Regions from separate parts of the Homo sapiens genome. Here region 1 is linked to region 2. The links come from fine-mapping of genetic effects on gene expression. A gene starts in region 2. The other region holds a variant in brackets. All regions are shown on one strand. Distances are between the middles of the regions. Region 1 overlaps SERINC3 (serine incorporator 3). Region 2 holds the start of SERINC3 (serine incorporator 3).

Region 1 (8,340 bases), 22 kb before region 2:
GTAACAACATTTTATTCCAGAAGTAAGCCCAGACTCCTTGAGGGGTAACTGGAGCACGGCTTGCCCAACTATGGTCCCAGGCCTGCTAAGCTGTTTCTATGTCCCCTGTTTATTTGGTACTCTGTGCCCCAGAGTAGACAAAAACTAGGTCCCCATGGTAGATCTGGTGACTTGATGAGTCAGTTGAGAAATACTCTAACACAGGAGGTACACTTTTGATGATGCAACAGGTTAAGTACTTATATTGCAGCATAACCACCCCTTCAGGTCAGCCTTTCCTGAGGAAATTGTGGAACTTAAGTTCAGTCTGTTTCTCACATATAGAAAAATGAAGCTAACTGTTAAAATCCTTTTCTCTCACAGCAGTCTTATGAGGCCCTTTTCCATGAGTCAGTATTTTCTTGATGCCCCCTGCCCCCTCCTTACACAGTACTGGTTTGGTACCCATACACTCAATGGCAATAAAGTTTCACATTATCGCATTTAAAGGGTAAGTAATAAGACCCTTTAGGGTACCACTCTTCTGGGGAAAACGTTTTTAACCTAATATTCATGCTTTTTCCTGAGTAGGTGCCAGCCACTAGGGATAGCTGACCTAGTAAAAGACATGAGTCACTTGCCTTCAGGTGACTACTAACTTGTCTTTGTCAGTGATGGGTAGAGGAGCAAACACTCTGTGCCTGAGAGTAGACAAAAACTAGGTTCCCATGGTAGATCTGGTGAGTTGGTGATGAGTCATTAGTGAGCCAGATGACTCCCCTACATGTCTCTAATAAATCCTGTCTCTTATATTCTTATGGCCCAAGAGACACTGAGGTCTAATTGAAAAAAGAACTCTTAAGCCAAGCCCTGGGTTTCTCTGTTTCACCTCTTACTGAGTAACCATAGGCAAGTCACGAACTTCTCTAAGCCTCAAACTGATACGTAAAAGGAAGGAGGGAGGGAAATAATCACCACCTTACAGGCATGTGGATACTGTCTGTTTAATGCTTGGTACACCTACCCATCTATGTGGTTTCTATTATTCTTCTTCACCTGAGAACATAGGCATGGTGTGGCTTGAGTCATCCAGCAGTAATTAGGACATCACTGAGTTGGGTGCCTAGGTAACAGGACGGACAGACCAACACAACAGGAGTAAAGAGATGAACAGCAGCTTCCATTAATAAGCATAAGCCTACTATCTGTTATCAATCTGCACAGATCAAATGCACAACTCATTATGTGAATACTCACTTTAGCCTGAATGTGTAAAAACAGCCAGGTGCAGTGGCTCCCGCCTGTAATCCCAACACTTTGGGAGGCTGAGGCAGGTGGATCACCTGAGGCCAGGAGTTCGGGACCAGCCTGGCCAACATGGTGAAATCCCATCTCTACTAAAAACACAAAAATTAGCCAGGTGTGGTGGCGCGCACCTATAGTCCCAGCTACTCAGGAGACTGAGGCAGGAGAATTGCTTGAACATGGGAGGTGGAGGTTGCAGTGAGCCAAGATGGCACCACTGCACTCCAGCCTGGGCAACAGAGCAAAACTCTGTCTAAAAAAAGAAAAAAGAACCAGTTACAGATTTCTTTGTTCCTTCTCCATTCCTCACTTGGCTAGCCAAAAAGAAAAAGAACAAAACCTCTATACTGAGAACCAGGTCCATGGCTACTCTTTGGCAGGCAGTTTCTTTGATTACCAAGAGAAAGTTTTACTTCCCAACCAGATAACCCGCAAGACCAACCTAGAAAATAAAGGAGTCCAGCATGGACCTAGAAGCTTTCTCCCGGCTTTAACGAGGTAAAAGTGGCAGCCACTGCTATTGCCTTTGATGAGTTCCTAGAGCATGTCCCTGATCTGAAAGCCAGGGCCCCAACCCGCATTCCCCAAGGCTAGGCAAGCCCTTTCATAGTGATGAAACATAAAGGTACTCATCTGGAATGAAAGGCCACCCTGAGATCTGATGACTCAAAATACTCCCCTGCTTTAAATGATGATCCTGGCCTTATTCAGAATGCTGTCTTACTCATGCTTGTATATAATTCAGCATTCACATGTATAATTCACTTGAGTCTTGATTAGACTACTGGTTTTCCTACTAAGAGGCAGACTTCACTACTTCTTAAGGTAGGACCAAGCAAAGCAGGGACACTGCCTCCCGACTTTTAAAGAGCATTTGTTACTTCAAATTAATATCAGTTATCATCATGAGAAAAAAATAAAAACTTTATTGGACTTTGTTACATTTATTTTACAGTTTAGTATTGTTTGTATTTTGAATTACATTAAGGCGGAGGATGGGGCACTGTAATGTTTTTGAAGTTTAGGACCTTTAAAGCTCTTAAGCTGACTCCGCTACTGTAAAGAAAAGCAGGGTATCTGCTTCACACTGGCAAAATAAGGGGCTACATTTCCCCATCTGACCCTCAAATCCCTTGAAACGCTATACCCTGACATAAACCACTGGTTTAAAAGACAATGATTCCAATAATTTATATCAAGTCCTGCTTCCCTACCCCACACCTCCACCCTAACTGAGCCTGTCCCCTCTGTGTTCCTCTGTCTAATTCTGTAACAAAATCTGAAATCCAGCCTCCATCAGATTCTGGCTAGATATCTCTGACCTTTGAATATTGTCTTATTTTAGCCCATAATGAGATCAGCAGCTACTGTCAGTGCTATGTCAGTGCTAAAAATGGGTTACACTTTGCAAAATAACTTTATTCTTTAACAATCTTGTACACTAGGCACCAACACTGAGGCTCAGCTGCCTGTGGTCATAAATCAAATAGTACGTACTCAACAAATAATAGCTGACAAGTTTGATAGCCAGAAAACGGCAAAGCTGGGATGCAAACCCAAGCAGTCTGACTCCCAAGCCTCTTAACCATTCTTAAGAGACCACCTACCTCCATTCTTCTTCGAACACATGTTTTTCCTGTTTGCCACCTGAATACGTGGAACCACCATCCACCCAGCTGGTTAAACCAGAATCACTCAGAAATCTACCTCTCCTTCATATTATTCATAACTGCCAGTGTTAAAATTCTAATTGCTGGCCAGGCACGGTGGCTCATGCCAGTAATCCTAGAACTTTGGGAGGCCGCGGCAGGTGGATCACGAGGTCAGGAGATCGAGACCATCCTGGCTAACATGGTGAAACCCTGTCTCTACTAAAAATACAAAAAAAATTAGCCAGGCGTGGTGGTGGGTGCCTGTAGTCCCAGCTACTAGGGAGGCTGAGGCGGGAGAATGGCGTGAACCCGGGAGGCGGAGCCTGCAGTGAGCGGAGATCGCACCATTGCACTCCAGCCTGGGCGACAGAGCAAGACTCCGTCTCAAAAAAAAAAATTAAAATTGAAAAAAAAAAATTCTAATTGCTAAGTAGCCCTCACCTGTCAATTTCTCCCCGTCCCTACGATTCCACTTCTCTATTTCACATCTCATATGGACTGCACCTGGTCTCATCTCTCTAAATCCATTCTCTATATATCAGCCCAAGTGACTGAAGATAAAATTTGTTCATGACACTATGAATATGTTTTCAGCCACCCTCAACATAAGGTCCAAACTCTTTACTGAGGTTGATAAAGCCCTTTAAAATTCAGTCCCTGACTACATTTCCCCATTCCAGCTTTACTGAACTTTTTTTCCCCATCTTCCTGCCTTTAACATGCAGTTTTATCTACTCCAGCAATGTCGTCTCATTTTCCCATCTCTCTCTTAGCTAACTTCTAAGAGTTCTTGGCTTAAATATCATTTTCTCCAGAAAGCCTACCATTACACCAAATACCTCTCCTTTGAGTTCTCTCCAATTCCTAAACCACAGCACTAATTCACATTATAACCACCTGTCAGCTCATTTGCTCTCTTCTCTAAGCTATTAAAGTCCAAGACGGCAGAGCCTCTATCATGTTTAACACTGTACCCCAAAACCTACAGGGTCTAGTACAGAATAGACAGTAAATCTTTGTTGAAAGAACTCTTTTATTCTACCTTTTTGCACACCACCTCTCATGAAAATGGTTCTTGACAATGCCTTCCGTCTCTCATCTACCAAGTGTCTTACCTAGAGAAGGTATTTAGGACTTTTGAATAAATTCAAGACTTTGCTCACTAGTCAGACCGTAATTTTTAGAAGGAATAGGAGCATCCTGACTAGAAGCGTGATAAAACCTGGCTATCCAGAAAATAAAGAATGGCTGCTAACTATAAAAGCTGTTGGAAGAAAGGGCCTTAAAATCTTAAAAGTCTTTGTATTTTAACCAAATACCTTCATAGTGCAAATATGATAAATTCACATGCATTTTACTTTTACATACTCATAACAAGATAGTAACACAGACTAAAGCTGCAGTGTTTTCCCAAGTGAATCTTCATTTTAACCAAACTCACAAAGCATTTATGGAAATTAATACATCTGGCAAAGCACCAGACTTGAATCAAGCAGTCTCAATGCTACAGTGTAAAAAAAGTAAATTAAAAAACTCAAGATGTAGAAGCAGTAGCCATATCAGCAACCATTCTTCTAGGGAAGGGACCCACATATACGATCCTTCCCCAAGAACTTTGATGCTACCCCGCTGAAGAGTTTAAGCACAAAACACAGTGCTTGTATCATATAAGTAAGGACTTTCATAGAGGAAAACTGTAATATAAATGC[AT/A]TTTTTTTTTTTTGCTTTTAAAGGATACTGCAATATAAATATATTAAGCATGGCCTCAAATATCCAACATTTTCCTATCTTACATTTTAAACCAAAGTTAAAAGAACCTACAGGCTTTATAAAGAACTCTCTTCACAGCACAGCTGTAGTTCACTTTAAACAAAAAATGTTCCCTTTGTGCTATATCCTTAGAAGTAAACATAATATACAGATAAATGAGAAGTTTCGATTCTGCATCAAGCATTATTCAATCTCACCTTCTGATATAAACCTGCATACAGTCAAACTTGCAAAGCATTCACTTAATATTTTAGTTGAAACAAACTTAAAAGGTATATGGGTTTTCGGTGAAGGAGACCTTTGTGAGTTCCAGTGGTGTCCTTGGCACTCAGAGGTTCAGCTGAAGTCCCGACTGGTGAGGACAAGTGGAGCCACAAGGGTCCAGACGTAAAGCAGGAGGCAGACCCAGCTGGAGCTGATCTTGACCCACACAGCTGGCCACTTGCTGGTCATGCTCTGAAACTTTGCATCAGGGCTAAGAAAACAAGAGAGAGTCAGGTAGAAAAGCCTGGTCTACCTGACTTCTATCAGCCTCCTGCAGCCCCCCAGCCAAGGCCAAGAAATTCTCCAGTGAAACTTGGCTGGCACTACCCCCCAGTAGGGTTGAAGGGGACCAGAGGAAGCTGCTATTTTTAGTTCTTATGACCAAGAACTAAACAGCTCATTGACTCTGCCTCTCAAATGACTTTTCTTCTTGCCAGCATGAAAGACCCTATCAGGGCAAAGTTCTTTAAATGTTCCTAGTTACTGGCAAAGGTCTAGATTGAGATAGCCTCCCTGAAACTTTCCTTCCTTAGTACATTATTACGGGAACCAGAATGCTCTGACATGGCCATCTCTATACACAGAAAATTAGTGAACAAAGATGGGTCAGATTGCTTTATGTCATGATTTTCTCTCTCAATTAACTCAACTCTGTAAGAGCTCCCAATGATTTGCATTGCAAAGAATTCCAATGGGTTTTAAATGCTAGAGGGGATAAAGTCAAGAGTATTTAACCCAACTTCATTATATGGGTAAGAGCAAGGGTTCTGAGGTCAGGACAATGGATGAGATTTTATAGGCCATCCAAGGGTTTTATGGTCTTCTGTCTGTTTTGTCTGTGTCTCCTACCTGTACCAGCTGGTCAGGGTCATCATGATGTACAAGGAAGCCAAGCAGAGCATGAGGTGGAATAAGGAGTAGCTATACTGCACTCCCTCTTTCTCGTTGTCCACAGCCCGCCGAGGCTGTCCATCTTCTTCATCACTGGCACCACTGGTAGTTGTATCACCAAGGATGACGCTGTCACTCCCTGACAGGGTCAGCTTGTCTACTTGGCTATTAGTGGAAGTGCGGATGCTGGAAAGTGATCCCAAGGAAGACAAATCAGAAAGGGGCCATGACAATGAACTGCTGCCACTGGCCTGTATACAAGACACTTACTGCTGAGCTGTTCCTACTTTGGAGACTGAAAGCTTTCTGAAGATCCTGCTTAAAGTTCTGAACTGCTGCCTGTCATCATAAGACTGACGTCACTGTCATCAGTTACTACTTGATGTGATGGCTTAATTGCTTAGGAGTTTCATAAAACACACTATGCTCTCTGTGTCTGTTTCCGTGACTTCACAAGTGCCGCTTCTATGATTGGAAGGTACCACGTGCCAACCTCCTTCCAACTAACTTACTCATCCTTCACTTCTCTGACTTGCTGTCATGTCCTCTGGAAGGCCTTCCCTGACATCACCCCTCACTGGCTAGGTTACAAGACACTCCTCCGACTTCCCACAGCTTCCTAGGCTTCCTTCTGCCACTGCACATATCACTCCTATCTTCCTTGCTATTCAAAGAATGCCTTAACAGTGACCTTAGTCTATGTAATTCTAGCACTACAGATGTTCACTAAAAGTTTGTTAAATGACTGAATAAAAATGTAAATACAAAAACAGGACAAAAATTACATGCTCGTTTCAACAGACACAGAAAAAACATCTCACAAATCCAATACCTTTCCATGATAAAAACAGTCAAAGTAGAACTTCCTCAGGCTGACAAAAGGAACAAAAAACCCAGAGCTAACATCATACTTAACAGTGAAAGACTAAAAACTTTCCCCCTGAGATCAGGAACAAGACAAGGATCCTACTCTCACCATTTCTATCCAACAATGTAGTAAAATTCTAGCCAGAGCAAATAGAAGAGATAAATGGTATCCAGACTAGAAAAGAAGTAAAACTATCTCTATCTGTAGATGACTTCATCTTGTTTATAGGAAATCCTATGGAATACATACACATGCAAACTATTAGAACCAATAAATAAGTTCACCAAAGTTGCAGGATACAAGATCAATATATAGAAATCAGGACTGGGTGTGGTGGCTCACGCCTATAATCCCAACTACTTGAGAGGCTGAGGTGGGAGGATCGCCAGAGGACAGGAGCTCAAGACTGGCCAGTGCAACACAGCAAGACTGTTCCTAAAAAGATTAAAAATTAGCTGGGCATGATGGTGTGTGCCTGTAGTTTCAGCTACTCAGGAGGCTGAGGTGGGAGGATCACTTGAGACCAGGAGCTTGAGGCTGTAGTGAGCTATGATCACACCACTGCATTCCAGCCTGGATGACAGAGCAACACTTCTTCTCTTCAAAAAAAAAAAAAAAAAAACACAAAAATCAATTGTATTTCTTTTTGAGATGAGGTCTCACTCTGTCACCCAGGTGGACTGTAGTAGTACAATCACAGCTCACTGCAGACTTGACCTCCTGGGCTCAATTGGTCCTCCCACCTCCCCAAGTAGCTGGGACTACAGATTGCACCACCACACCTGGCTAATTTTTATAGAGACGGGCTCTTACTATCTTGCTCTGACTGGTCTCAAACTCCTGGATGCAAGCGATCCTCCCACCTCAGCCTCCTAACGTGTGGGAAATACAGGCATGAGCCACCATGCCTCGTCACCAATCATATCTCTATACACTAGCAATAAACAACCCAAAAGTTAAGCTAAGAAAACATACATTCATTTATAATACCATCGAAAAGAATAAAATACTTAGAATTGTATTTAGAATAAAACACTTAAAAACAAAATAAGTTTAAGATTTGTATACTAATAACTAACTATAAACCACTGAAAGAAATTAAAGACCTAAATAAATGGTTTAAGTAAAGAAGACTTCAGTAAGGTATCTTCATGGTCACAGACTGGAAGCCTTAATATTGCTGAGATGACAATACTCCCCAATTTGGTCTATACAGATTCAACTCAATCCCTATAAAAATCCCAGCTACATATTTTTTTGCAGAAATTGACAAGCTGATCCTGAAATTCACATGGGAATGCAAAGGACCCATAACTGCCAAAACAATTTTGAAAAAGAACAAATTTGGAGGACTCATACTTCCTAATTTCAAAACTTACTACAGGCTGGGCATGGTGGCTCACACCTGTAATCCCAGCACTTTGGGAGGCTGAGAAAGGAGGATCACCTGAGGTCAGGAGTTCGAGACCAGCCTAGCCAACATGGTGAAACACTGTCTCTACTAAAAATACAAAAATTAGCCAGGCATAGTGGCAGGTGCCTGTAATCTCAGCTACTTGGGAGCCTGAGGCAGAAGAACTGCTTGAACCCAGGAGGTGGAGATTGCAGTGA
Region 2 (8,340 bases):
ATAAAGAACCTAGTATAATGCCTGACATATTTATCAGGCTCAATATATCGTGGTAGCCATTATTATTTGTAATTGCAATAGCAATGGGAAATTGACCAGCCAGTCTCAGTCTCCAATTCTTAACTACAGTATAGGCCAAACACTGCAGAGGCATGTCCTCCACAAATTCTTATGTTGAAGTCCTAATGCCCAATTCCTCAAAATGTATCCTTACTTGGTCACTGCAGATGTAGTAAGTTAAGATGAGGTTATATGGAGTAGAGTGAGCAGCTAATTCAATATAACTGTGTCCTTATAAAAAGGGGAAACTTGGACAAAGGCTTACAACACAGGGAGAATTCCACATGCCATGTGAAGGCAGAGATCTACAAGCCAAGGAACATCAAAGACTGCCAGCAAACCAAAAAAAAAAAAAGCCAGGGGAGAGGCATGATACAGATTCTCTCTCACCACCCTTAGAAGGAACCAACCCTGCTGACACCTTCATCCCAGACTTCCAGCCTCTAGAATTCAGAGATAAGAAATCACTGGGTTTAAGCCACTCGGTCTGTGGTACTTTGTTATAAAGCCCTGGCAAACTAATAAACTTACTTACCTATAGTTGTCTTAAGAATGTAAATATCTCGAAGGGGAGACTATCTTTACAACGTTATATCTTTTGTATCTTTACAGAGCAGGTACTCAGTAAATATCTGTGGGACAAATCTGTCCTACTATATGTTATGTCATTTTTCTATTTCAGTAAATGACAACTCCATTCTTCCTGTTGCTTGGGCCCAAAACCTGGAGTCATCCCGAATGCCTTCCCTTTTCCCAAAATCCTCATCCAATCTGTCAGTACATCAGCTCTACCCTTAAAATATATCCAGAATCTGACCATTTTCACAGTATCCTTAGCTATCACCTTTGTCCAAGCCACAACTATCATCTCTCATCTGGATTAAGCGCAAAAGTTCCCATCTCACAGCTGTAGCGACCCATTCAGAAGCTCTGAGTTGGCCGGCACAGTGGCTCACGCCTGTAATCCCAGCACTTTGGGAAGCCAAGGCAGGCAGATCACCTGAGGTCAGGAGTTCAAGACCCGCCAGGCCAACACAGTGAAATCCTGTCTCTACTAAAAATGCAAAATTAGCCTCAAAAAAAAAAAAAAAAAAAAAAGAAGCCCTGAATTGTTATAAAGATTATTTTAAGCTTTTAAGCTGAAGCATCTGAGCTTCAACAGATGCAGAGGAAAAAAAAAAGCCTTCTGGGAGCTTCTCTTATCTGACTAAAAGCAGCAACTTCTGGGAAACGAGGCTGCCATAAAGTCCCTCTCCAGGGCAGTTTTAAGATCATGAAGAAGCTGGAAAGACCCACCATACCTGCATAAACAAGTACTACCACAAACGTATTTCCTATTTATTCTCCTAAAAAAACTTGTCTTTCCTAAAGAAACCTATTTGTTCTTCTCATAGAAGCCTTTCTCCCAGCTTCCTTTTTCCTACTAAATTAGAAAGCCTTGGCTGGGTGCAGTGGCTCACACCTGTAATCCCAGCACTTTGGGAAGCTGAGGTGGGCAGATCACCTGAGGTCGGGAGTTCAAGACCGGCCTGACCAACATGGAGAAACCCCATCTCTACTAAAAATACAAAATTAGCCAGGCGTGGTGGCACATGCCTGTAATCCCAGCTACTTGGGAGGCTGAGGCAGGAGAATCGCTTGAACCTGGGAGGTGGAGATTGCAGTGAGCCAAGATCCCACCATTGCACTCCAGCCTGGGCAACAAGAGTGGAACTTGTTTTCTCAAAAACGAAAAAAAAAAAAAAAGCCTCAAGTTCTAACCGCCCCCTTTGAGTTACTATTACTGAGCACTCCTGTGTGTACATGTCTTGCATGCATAAACTCTAAATAATCTGTTTTGTCAGTTTAATTCACAAGCCCCCAGAAACAGAACCCAAAAGGCTGGAGGAAGATTCTTCCCAGCCTACACTGCTTTACCTTTACTTTTCTACCATCTATTCTCCACACAGCAACCAGAAACCACCTCGTTAAAACACAGGCCCAGATCACATCACTCCTTTTTTCAAACTCTGTAATAGATTCCCATATAACTTAAGAGTAAAAGCCGGGCAAGACGCGGTGGCTCACACCTGTAATCCAAGCACTCTGGGAGGCCGGCGGATCACGAGGTCAGGAGATTGAGACCATCCTGGCGTGAGCCACCATGCCTGGCCTTCAACTCACCAGGATTTTCTAATGTGATAGAAGATAAAAGAAAAATTGTACAGTAAACGATTATTTCATAAAACTTTGTCTCTATATGGGTGCATCAGATCACAGATCAACTATGTACAATCTTTCTTTAGGTCAAGGTCAGAATAATTAGAAAACCACTGCTCTCAAGAAAGCCCTTAAAAATGGAACACTCTTTTGATTTAGGACCAACAACCTTAAAATACATTCTGTTCCTAAGAAATAGTGGAATGAAGCCAGGCATGGTGTCACACACCTGTACTGGGAAGGCTGAGGTGGGAGGATCACTTGAATCCAGGAGTTCAAGGCTGCAGTGAGCTATGACTGAGCCACTGCACTCCAGCCTGGGTGACAGAGCAAAACTCTGTCCCCCTCCAAAAAAAAAAAAGAAAAATAGTAGAAAGAGCTGAAACAGAATCCTTGGTGTAATACTGTCAAATATATGTATGTTTGGTTCCCATTTCCTGGCATACAATTTCTAAAATCCTTGGAATAACCAGCGTCTTTTTGTATGCTAATGAGATGACTGGTGACTGGCAGCCCCTAGGTGGCTTCATGATGGGTGAGGGTCATAGTAGGAGGTTGGGACTTTTCAGTCTCACCCCTGACCCTCCAAGGAGGGGCTGAAGGTTAGGTCAGTAACCAAAAGCCAATGATTTAATGAATGCTGACTACATAATGAAGCCTGCATAAAAGCTCAGAAGGACAAAGTTCAGAAGAACTTTTGGCTGGGCATGGTGGCTCACACCCCAGGAGTTCGAGACCAGCCTGGCCAACATGGCGAAATCCCGTCTTTATTGAAAATACAAAAATTAGCTGGGCGTGGTGGCATACACTATAATCCCAGCTACTCCGGGAGGCTGAAACATGAGAATCCCTTGGAGGTTGAAGAGAGCCGAGATGGCGCCACTGCCCCAGACAGAGCATGGAAGCTCCAGACCCGTTCCCTCTACACCTTGTCTTACATATCACTTCATCTGTATCTTTAAAAATATATTAATAGTAGCCATAAAAAAAGAAGAAAATCATGTCCTTTGCAGCAACAAAGATGCAGCTGGAGGCCACTATCCCAAGTGAATTAATACAGAAACAGAAAACCAAATACAGCATATTCTCGCTTACAAGTGGGAGCTAAACACTGGGAACACAGACACGAAGATGGCAACAATAAACACTGGAGAGTCCAAGAGTGGGGAAGGACGGTGGGGGGATAGGGGTTGAAAAACTACCTGTTGGATACTGTGTTCACTGTTTGGGCAACGGAATCATTAGAAACCCAAACCTCACGATAAGGCAATATACCCATGTAACAAAACTGCATATGTACCCTCTGAATCTAAAATTAAAAATACATAAATACACAAAATAAAATACTTTTATAATAAACCAGTAAACATGTTTCCTTGAGTTTTGTGACCAAATTAATCAAAGCCAAGGAGGGAGGTCACGGGAACTTTGATTTATAGGTGGCCGGTCAGAAGCACAGGTAAAACAACCTGAGGCTTGCCATTGGCACAGAAAGTGGGCACAGTCTTGTGAGACTGAGCCCTCCACTTGTGTGATTTGATGCTATCTCCAAGTAGAGAGCTTCGGAATTGACTTGTAGGGCACCAAGTTGGCATCCCCTGCAGAGCTGACTGTTTGCCTGATGTTTGGGGGAAAATCCCCACACACCACACATCAGGTGTCAAAAGTGTGTTGTGAGTACAGCAGGAGAAACTGAGTGTGCTTTTTCTACACACTTGGTCAATTAAATCAGCTGGAGAATGAGGAATCAAGGAATCACGCTCCTCTGAAGTGGGTAAATGAGGGAACTCAGCATATTCTTTTATAGGCCCTATAATTTTCTCTTTAAAATGTTTACAGTTTACAAGGTGATTAAACCTTCACTTCACTGTCACAATCGTTCTCGAAGAGAGGAATGCTGGGGTGATTATCCTCGGATAAATGACTTACAGCAGTCCCAAAATATTCAGGCCCTGGTTTCCAATTTTGAATAACAATCCACAAGGGCTTCTTTCCCTTGCACCTGAACTGCAGACAAGCCTCCGCTAAAACCCCAGCTTTGCCACACACTCTGTAGTTTTGGCAAATCCCGTGCTAGGGGATAAAAATATTACTTGAGCCACCTAGAACTAAATGATGGCACCTTAAGAGGTGCTTCGGGAGGAACCGGAGCCCCTCGCTGGGAGCTGTCATTCCTTGGTCCCTCTCCAGCTCCAGAGGAACCTAGTCAGGAAGCCTCGCAGGGCGGAGCCATCCGAATTGTAAACAATGGCGGCCTAGCCTCTTCCGTTCCCCGAGGAACCCGGAGGGCGAGCCGCCTAAGCTGGACCTGAGGGTATCGCGGATTTGCGTCTGGGGCCCCGGAGACCCTCTGTAGCCCAGGGCCTGCTGACATCCCGAGAGCCTCTGGAGCCAAGGCCCGTGCAGCTCTGGTCTCGAGGCCTTTCCCCGCAAACCGCAGGTCCGGCGAGGACTCGGGACCCCGAACTCACCCAGCTGGCGAGGGAGAAGACACCCAGCACAGCCCCCATGGTGACGCCAGTGATGGAGGTGGCCGGTCCTGAGGCTGCTTTCTAACACGGTGGTAACTGCCAGCTGAGGTGACTCCCCAGAAACATGACGGTTTCTCAGGCCGGAAACGCAGCCTTCCACAGACGCACGGATGCGTCACGGCGTGGCCCCGCCCACCGTCCGCGACCGGAGCGGCAGAGGGGGGCGCCTGTCATTGGCTGAGGGGGAAGGTGGGGCTAAACCATCCTGGGGTTGCAGGAACTGTGAAGGTGTCATTCCTTACATCATTTGTATTCATTGTGCAAAGATCTGGAAGTTACAGAAGTGTACAGAGAGGCACAGTACGCTCAGAATTTATTCTCTAGTTAATAGGAGATCTGACAACATAAATGCACCGTGCCCCAATGTAATGAATACGATGAAGTAGTATGGGGGAATAGGCTTTCAATAAAGGTGTATTTAGTGCCTCCTATTGTAAGGGGAAAGTAATTTAGCTGGGCAGTAGTCTTGGAAGGCTTCTCTGAAGGATTTATTTTTTAATCTGCGAACTAAAGGATGAGTCCAAATTAACCTAGAAACGATGGAAATCGTATCCTAAAATGTGGGATGCACCCCATTTGGGAAAAATGAATGGCTCTAAGGGTGCATGAAGGACATTAAGCGATATTAAACAGCAGAGTGAGAACGTCCCATTTCAAACCAACAGGCTAGTTGTTTGAGGCCAGTATGGTATTTAACATTTTTCTAGTATTTATCTCCCTTTCTAACAGAGTAAAGCCTTCATTTTCCAGATCTCTCAAACAGGCAACCATGCCTGCAGTTTTAAAATATTGTTTTGTTTTGAGGTGTGTGTTAGCAATAACCTTTTCATTTCTTCCGAGCAATGCTGATTTCCCATTTAAGCAGTGATGTAAATATTCCTTTCAAAATACATGTCAAATTTGAGAGTTCACTTAAAGAAGAAAATGAAAACATTTTTTACTTACACATATAATAGTTTAGGTGGAATGTGGCAAACAATGATGATGTCCGGACAACAAGGTGTCACACTTCAATATCTTCTCCTGTGGTGTGTTAATCTTCCCTGATAGATAAAACTCTCTGGAAGGGGATTCATAATTGAATTCCTTCTGGATTGTCAGCCTTTAGTCTGATAAGGGAAATTCATGAAAAGCCCCTCTCTCCATGTGCTGTTCCCCAAGCAATCATCATACCAGTGTGGCATATTTGGGGATGTTATTTCCTGGATTCCTTGAAAATGTATTCCAAATTCATCTTTTACAGAAATGGAATGAGGCTCAAAGTTTGCCCAAGGCCATGAAAAGGGCTGATGAAAGAAGAAAGAGAACTACTCACATTTAATAATTCCTACCTCTCTTTTCCCAGATCCCTCTCCTCACCACACATACACAAATACCAGCTCAAGTCAAGTTGCTTCAGGACCACTGAACTTTCCAGGTAGTCCTTAACATTCTTGCTTCTTCCTGTCTGAGTATTGCTGGTCTGGACTTAAGAGAGCTGACTGTGATAAATTTTACAGATCGAATTCTACCAGAAACATACCTGTAGTCAAAAAGAATTAGGTTTATTTAGCTTGTTCAGAAAGGGAGAACACATATCAGAGAAAATATAAGGTGTCTTGGTAAGAGGTGACTGGGGAGAACTTATTTTAGGATTTGGGTTTATGCTGGGTAACTAAATCTAAGGAGAGTTTAAGGAGGAGGAGAACAGTTTTGGATTGGACACAGTCAAGGAGTAGAGGCAATTCAGTGATTAGGTATCTTACAAATTTTTATCCAGAAGGAAGAAGGATTAAAACAAGGCTAGATTAGTCCTTGGAAAAGTGTGATACCCTACCTTGTCTTAACCTGAATTGACTCTCTCTTAGCTGAGGGAGACAGACAAACTCCATTTTGGCTCCTTCACTTGCCGCTCCTTACCCATCCCACTTCCTCAAGGATTTAACTTGTGCAAGCTGACTCCCAGCACATCAAAGAATGCAATTAACTGATAAGATACTGTGGCAAGCGATAGCTGCAGTTTCCAGGAATTCACCCGGTTGATAGTACCCTAAGCCCCTGCATTTTTGTCCGGTTGATGGTACCCAAAGCCCCCACATCTATCACCTTGTGATGGATTTAAAGCCCCTGCACCTGGAACTATTTGTTTTCCTGTAACCATTTGTCTTTTTAACTTTTTTGCCTGTTTTACTTCTGTAAGATTGCCTCAGCTAGGCTCCCCCTCCCCTTTCTAAACCAAAGTATAAAAGAAAATCTAGCCCCTTCTTCGGGGCCGAGAGAATTTTAAGCACTAGCCATCTCTCAGTTGCCGGCTAATAAAGGACTCCTGAATTCGTCTCAGAGTGTGGCGTTTCTCTATAATTCGCTCGGTTACAAAAAAAGAAGCAAAATCCACTCATTTATTAGTCAGAATTGGAAGATGTTGAGTCCTATCTGCGGTACCAGAGTGGCTTTGTCTGTATCTTGATCCAACTACATGGTGGTCTTGTCTGATCTTTGTTTATATTCTGTGATCACTGTTTTTGTTCAGTTAGAAACATTAGGTCTAGCTGTCAGCTGAACAGTTTTTCATTTTCTTACCTGTAAGCATTTGTCCTCCCACATGTAGGATCCCCCCATCTCTTAGTGTTTCTGGCCCTAACTGGTTGAGTGTGTCACTTCTACTTGGCCAAAGCGAGGACAGCAGATCTTTGTGATCATCTACTCCAATTTCCCGCCTCAGGCAGAAACCCCTTAGCAACATCTCTTCTAGGGTAGGGGGCTCACTGCCACCCAAGGCAGCTCCTCCCATCTTTACACATCCATTGTCAAACCTGTCAGGCCTCTGAGCCCAAGCTAAGCCATCATAACCCCGTGACCTTCACATACACATCCAGATGGCCTGTTCCTGCCTTAACTGATGACATTCCACCACGAAAGAAGTGAAAATGCCCTGTTCCTGCCTTAACTGATGACATTACCTTGTGAAATTCCTTCTCCTGGCTCATCCTGGCTCAAAAGCTCCCCCACTGAGCACCTTGTGACCCCCGCCCCTGACCATCAGAGAACAACCCTCTTTGACTGTAACTTTCCTTTACCTACCCAAATCCTATAAAACGGCCCCACCCCTATCTCCCTTCGCTGACTCTCTTTTCGGACTCAGCCCGCCTGCACCCAGGTGAAATAAACAGCCCTGTTGCTCACACAAAGCCTGTTTGGTGGTCTCTTCACACGGACGCGAGTAAAAAAACCTAGGTTATTTCCCCCCATATGTTGTTGAAAAGATAACACATGTACTTGGTTATAACATACTGCATAAAGGAGCACACGGTGAAAATGAAGTGTCCTTCCCACCCTTCCCCCACCCCCATCTCCCAGATCTCCTTTCAGAGTTCCTACAGGAATATGCATATGCCAGCATTATGGCACTTTTTTTTTTTTTTTTTTTTTTGAGACAGAGTCTCGCTCTGTCGCCCAGGCTGGAGTGCAGTGGCACAATCTTGGCTCACTGCAACGTCCGCCTCCTGAGTTCAAGCGATTCTCCTGCCTCAGCCTCCTGAGTAGCTAGGATTACAGGTGCCCACCACCATGC

What was found. PIP is the estimated chance that this variant, and not a neighbour inherited with it, causes the effect.
Region 1: its variant is fine-mapped to the expression of SERINC3 in monocytes after LPS (Fairfax 2014, PIP 0.95). The same link has a PIP of 0.9 or more in B cells, CD4 T cells, CD8 T cells and neutrophils.

What each region holds. Positions count from the first base shown.
Region 1 is chr20:44,495,254-44,503,593 of GRCh38, forward strand. SERINC3 (serine incorporator 3) reads right to left here. Exons shown (of 10, transcript NM_006811.4): 9 at 5,820-6,047; 10 at 2,188-5,181. The coding sequence ends at 5,043. Among named protein-coding and RNA genes, the nearest start is that of SERINC3, 23 kb to the right of the region's middle. RefSeq lists an enhancer at 935-2,134. The variant AT/A (reference allele first, on the strand shown) is at 4,646.
Region 2 is chr20:44,517,183-44,525,522 of GRCh38, forward strand. SERINC3 (serine incorporator 3) reads right to left here and starts at 4,888. Exons shown (of 10, transcript NM_006811.4): 1 at 4,731-4,888. The coding sequence starts at 4,769. RefSeq lists enhancers at 4,099-4,651, 4,570-4,879, 4,786-5,080, 7,113-7,989.